Linked DNA regions of Homo sapiens: region 2 is linked to region 1. Evidence: fine-mapped expression QTL. A gene starts in region 1. The other region holds a variant in brackets. All regions are shown on one strand. Distances are between the middles of the regions. Region 1 holds the start of CCPG1 (cell cycle progression 1). Region 2 has its middle 8.0 kb from the start of PIGBOS1.

Region 1 (2,740 bases):
TTAGCTTTCTTAGTAATTTAATTTTCAGTTAGAGAAAGCCAGACCACTTTGACCTTTCGAAGTCCTTTGGTATAGATACATATACATTTAAAAAGATAAATGAAAACAAGCCATTGATTAATAATGCCCATCGCAGAAGCTGTAATTATAAAATTAAGATTTTTTGATGTCACTGTTGATGTTGAATATAGTTAATAGAAAAGCAAAAATAAAAAATAAAAAAGGTCTAATTTTGAGGCACTCTTTTGTCTCTGCTCAGGTCCACCGTCTTCCTTGCTAATGTTTACGTTTATTATTAATTTTTCCATTTATTTATTTACTTTTACCACAATTAGGGGACAGAGAATGAAACCTAAACTTTTTATTGCTTCTGTAAAGAGTGAATATAAATGTAAGATTTTTTTTTTTTGAGACGGAGTTTTGCTCTTGTTGCCCAGGCTGCAGTTCAGTGGCGCAATCTCGGCTCACTGCAACCTCTGCCTCCCAGGTTCAAGCAATTCTGCTGTCTCAGCCTCCCAAGTAGCTGGGATTACAGGCCCGCGCCACCTCTCCTGGCTAATTTTTTGTATTTAGTAGAGACGGAGTTTCACCATGTAGGTCAGGCTGGTCTCGAACTCCTGACCTCAGGTGATCCACCCGCTTCGGCCTCCCAAATTGCTGGGATTACAGGCGTTGAGCCCCGGCGCCCGGCCACCAAATCCTTTTTCAAAACAACTCCCTTCTTTGACACAGTGCAATTTAAATAAGTATACAATTAACAAAGTACGTTTTTCTTGTTCAAAACCATCACTGAACAGTTTGCAACAGTAGGGTATGAATGCATACAATCTCGATGGTCTTTACACCTTCAGAGGCTATTCGGACTTAAGGAAACGTGCATTTACAAGTGTAAATGTAAAAGCTCAGTAGTTGCCTTGTAAAGTGCTTTTCGGGGTTGTGGGGTTGGGGGTGGTAGGAGTAGGTGGTGCCTCAAATTATACTAGCGAATACCAACATTCCCAAACATCTAGCCCTCTGCCTAAACTCACCCGGTTGCGGTCTGTCATTTTCGCTCTTCTTTGTTAATTTTTTCGGCAAAGTCAGTTTTCATGCAGCAGATGGCAAGAAAGCCGGTGAACGCCTAGGGACGTGGCCTTTTAACCGCACCCAATTAAAGCAGCAAACAGAAGATGAATAGCTGGGTGGATCAGTATGTGTAAACCTATCCGTTTAATCCGGGGAGCTGTTTTCCCGGGTGAAACCACGAATTCTTTCTGGAGGTTGCAACTCGTAACCATAGCAACTGGAAGTGGTCGCCGGCTCCCGGATGTTGTGGGGATCTGCGGCCGCCTGGCCCAGCTTCCCGCAGCCGCCCGGCGGCGGCCTGCGCTCCACTTCGGGAGTGGTAGTTCTTCTCTTCACCGCTGCCGGGCAGGAGGCGCAGGCGGGACTACGCGTCACGGCATGCACTGCGGCGCCCAGCCGGTCACCGCCTGCCGGCTGCAGACGCCTGCGAGCAGGTTGTTTTTATAAGAGGCGTCATTGGCGCCCGAGCTGTGACCGCCGCCACTGGGGCAGCCAGCACAATCGGGCGGAGGTGGCGCTGCCCCTTCAGGTACTGTACTAGGCGGGCTTAGACCCCGGGAGGGGGTTTGTGCCGACTGTCTGAGTCCCTGGCCGACACGCTCGGCTCAGTAGAGGAGCAGTGGCGGGGTCCGCCTCCTAGGCTGGGGCTGCTCGGGCGGGGACTTGACGCCTGGTGTCAGCGGCCGCACGGGCGACCTCCTCGGGCCGTGCGCGAGTGCACAGCTCCGGAGGCCCGAGCCGACCCTGGGGCGTCCGGTCCGGTGGTCTTGCAGCCTCCAAACCCCGAGTGCTATACCGAACTGCGCGCCAAGGGTGGGAGAGCTGACGGCCTGGGCCACCCTTCTTCCTTCACTGGGCAGGCTTTGAGGTGCTTGTCGGTCTGGACTGATGAAAATCCATATGGTAAGATGTTATGTGCGTCACCCTGCCGGGTTTAATGCCAGCCTGTCTTTTGATGACATTTGAGCCCCCGTGATGTCAGGAATAGAAAGATTAAATATTAAATAATGCCCGGAGACTTCCGCTAGCACGCCAGCCTGATGATGATCAAATACCTCTCCATATCCTTCTCCAGTTCCAGTGGCCTCCTTTAGCTTTGGTCTCCCTAATCGATTTGTCCTCATTAGCAGCTGTCCCATGCAGTGCCTTGTACGCGTTGTTTATGTTTAGCACTATTGGGAGCGCCAAGTAAGGTATTTTATTGAGTGGTGAAGTTTGCACTGTTCTGCTCTACTTTTATTGAAAAACACAGTTGGGCATTCTTGTAGTTAGAATAGCTAACTATATAGTACTATGAATTTTAGATTTGTCTCCTCCAATCTACAGGATAGTGCTTGAAATATCGCTATTACTGCATCGTATCTTTTAAGATTAGAATCATATTGGGTCCCACACGTCTCAGGGGATATTTATCACACACATCCAGTGTGAATGGTTTACTTTTATTTTCTGAGTTCAGGTCATATAGCAGAAGATGGAGATGGTGAGGGTATTATTTTAATTCATATTTTTTTTTTTTTTGAGAGAGGGTTTCGCTCTTGTTGCCCAGGCTGGAGTGCAGTGGCGCGATCTCGGCTCACTGCAACCTCTGCCTTCCAGTTTCAAACGATTCTCCTGCCTCAGCCTCCCGAGTATCTGGGATTACAGGCGCCCGCCACCACGCCCAGCTAAATTT
Region 2 (3,020 bases), 97 kb after region 1:
ACTGCAGTCAAAAAGATGGAAAATTACAAGTGCTGTTGAGGATGTGAAACAATTGGAAGCTTCATACACTACTGGTTGGAAAGTAAAATGGTGCAGTCACTTTGGGAAAGTTTGGCAGTTCTTCAAATGGTTAAACGTAGAGCTACTATATGGCCTAGCAATTCCCCTTACAGGCATATGCCCAAGATAATTGAAAATATATGTTCAGGGCTACCCTCTTTGGGTCCCCTCCCTTTGTATGGGAGCTCTGTTTTCACTCTATTAAGTCTTGCTTCTGCAGTCTTCTGGTCCATATTTGTTACGGCTCCAGCTGAGCTTTTGCTCGCCGTCCACCCCTGTTGTTTGCCGCTGTCGCAGACCCGCCGCTGACTTCCATCCCTCCGGATCCAGCAGGGTGTCTGCTGTGCTCCTGATCCAGCGAGGCGCCCATTGCCACTCCTGATCGGACTGAAGGCTTGCCATTGTTCCTGCACGGCTAAGAGCCTGGGTTCGTCCTAATCGAGCTGAACACTAGTCACTGGGTTCCACGGTTCTCTTCCGTGACCCACGGCTTCTAATAGAGCTATAACACTCACCGCATGGCCCAAGATTCCATTCCTTGGAATCCGTGAGGCCAAGAACCCCAGGTCAGAGAACACGAGGCTTGCCACCGTCTTGGAAGCAGCCTGCCACTATCGGGAGCTCTGGGAGTAAGGACCCCCAGTAACATTTGGTGACCACGAAGGGATCTCCAAAGCAATGGGAAACGTTCCCCCCAAGGCAGAAACGCCCCTGAGATGTATTCTGGAGAATTGGGACCAACTGGACTCTCACATGCTAAGAAATAAACGACTTATATTCTTCTGCAGTACCACCTGGCCACGATATCCTCTTCAAGGGGGAGAAACCTGGCCTCCTGAGGGAAGTATAAATTATAACACTAGCTTACAGCTACACCTCTTTTGTAGAAAAGAAGGCATAAGGAGTGAAGTGCCATATGTACAAACTTTCTTTTCATTAAGAGACAACTCACAATTATGTAAAAAGTGTGATTTATGCCCTACGGGAAGCCCTCAGAGTCTACCTCCCTACCCCAGCGTCCCCTCGACTCCTTCCCCAACTAATAAGGACCCCCCTTCAACCCAAACTGTCCAAAAGGAGATAGACAAAGGGGTAAACAATGAACCACAGAGTGCAATTTTCCCCGATTATGCCCACTCCAAGCAGTGGGAGGA[G/C]AATTCGGCCCAGCCAGAGTGCGTGTACCTTCTTCTCTCTCAGACTTAAAGCAAATTAAAATAGACCTAGGTAAATTCTTAGATAACCCTGATGGCTATGTTGAGGTTTTACAAGGGTTAGGACAGTCCTTTGATCTGACATGGAGAGATACAATGTTACTGCTAAATCAGACACTAGCTCCAAATGAGAGAAGTGCTGCCATAACTGCAGCCTGAGAGTTTGGCGATCTCTGGTATCTCAGTCAGGTCAATGATAGGGTGACAACAGAGGAAAGAGAAAAATTCCCCACAGGCCAGCAGTCAGTTCCCAGTGTAGACCCTCAGTGGGACACAGAATCAGGATATGGAGATTGGTGCCGCAGACATTTGCTAACCTGCGTATTAGAAGGACTAAGGAAAACTAGGAAGAAGCCTATGAATTATTGGCAATGATGTCCACTGTAACACAGGGAAAGGAAGAAAATCCTACCGCCTTTCTGGTGAGACTAAGGGAGGCATTGAGGAAGCATACCTCTCTGTCACCTGATTATATTGAAGGCCAACTAATCTTAGAGGATAAGTTTATCACTCAGTCAGCTGCAGACATTAGAAAGAAACTTCAAAAGTCTGCCTTAGGCCCGGAGCAAAACTTAGAAAACCTATTGAACTTGGCAACCTCGGTTTTTTATAATAGAGATCAGGAGGAGCAGGTGGAATGGGACAAATGGGATTTAAAAAAAGGCCATTGCTTTAGTCATGGCCCTCAGGCAAGCAGACTTTGGAGGCTCTGGAAAAGGGAAAAGCTGGGCAAATCGAATGCCTAATAGGGCTTGCTTTCAGTGCGGTCTACAAGGACACTTTAAAAAAGATTGTCCAAATAGAAATAAGCCACCCCCTCGTCCATGCCCCTTATGTCAAGGGAATGACTGGAAGGCCCACTGCCCCAGGGGATGAAGGTCCTCTGAGTCAGAAGCCACTAGCCAGATGATCCAGCAGCAGGACTGAGGGTGCCCGGGGCAAGTGCCAGCCCATGCCATCACCCTCACAGAGCCCCAGGTGTGCTTGACCATTGAGGGCCAGGAGGTTAACTGTCTCCTGGACACTGGCGTGGCCTTCTCAGTCTTACTCTTCTGTCCTGGACAACTGTCCTCCAGATCTGTCACTATCTGAGGGGTCCTAGGACAGCCAGTCACTAGATACTTCTCCCAGCCACTAAGTTGTGACTGGAGAACTTTACTCTTTTCACATGCTTTTCTAATTATGCCTGAAATTGCCACACCCTTGTTAGGGAGAGACATTCTAGCAAAAACAGGGGCCATTATACACCTGAACATAGGAGAAGGAACACCCGTTTGTTGTCCCCTGCTTGAAGTCTGGGTAACAGAAGGACAATATGGACGAGCAAAGAATGCCCGTCCTGTTCGAGTTAAACTAAAGGATTCTGCCTCCTTTCCCTACCAAAGGCAGTACCCCCTTAGACCCGAGGCCCAACAAGGACTCCAAAAAATTGTTAAGGACCTAAAAGCCCAAGGCCTAGTAAAACCGTGCAGTAGCCCCTGCAATACTACAATTTTAGGAGTACAGAAACCCAATGGACAGTGGAGGTTAGTGCAAGATTTCGGGATTATCAATGAGGCCATTGTCCATCTACACCCAGCTGTACCTAACCCTTATACTCTGCTTTCCCAAATACCAGAGGAAGCAGAGTGGTTTACAGTCCTGGACCTTAAGGATGCCTTTTTCTGTATCCCTGTACATCCTGACTCTCAATTCTTGTTTGCCTTTGAAGATCCTTTGAACCCAACATCTCAACTCACCTGGACTGTT

The links.
Region 2: its variant is fine-mapped to the expression of CCPG1 in whole blood (TOPMed, PIP above 0.99).

Annotation. Positions count from the first base shown.
Region 1 is chr15:55,407,075-55,409,814 of GRCh38, reverse strand. CCPG1 (cell cycle progression 1) reads left to right here and starts at 1,456. Exons shown (of 9, transcript NM_001204450.2): 1 at 1,456-1,594. PIERCE2 (piercer of microtubule wall 2) reads right to left here and starts at 1,320. Exons shown (of 2, transcript NM_001198784.2): 1 at 1,029-1,320. The coding sequence starts at 1,046. The region is part of intron 8 of DNAAF4-CCPG1 (DNAAF4-CCPG1 readthrough (NMD candidate)); the gene reads left to right. RefSeq lists enhancers at 1,077-1,276, 1,327-1,596, 1,957-2,236.
Region 2 is chr15:55,309,565-55,312,584 of GRCh38, reverse strand. It overlaps a transcript of RAB27A not described here. Among named protein-coding and RNA genes, the nearest start is that of PIGBOS1, 8.0 kb to the left of the region's middle. The variant G/C (reference allele first, on the strand shown) is at 1,215.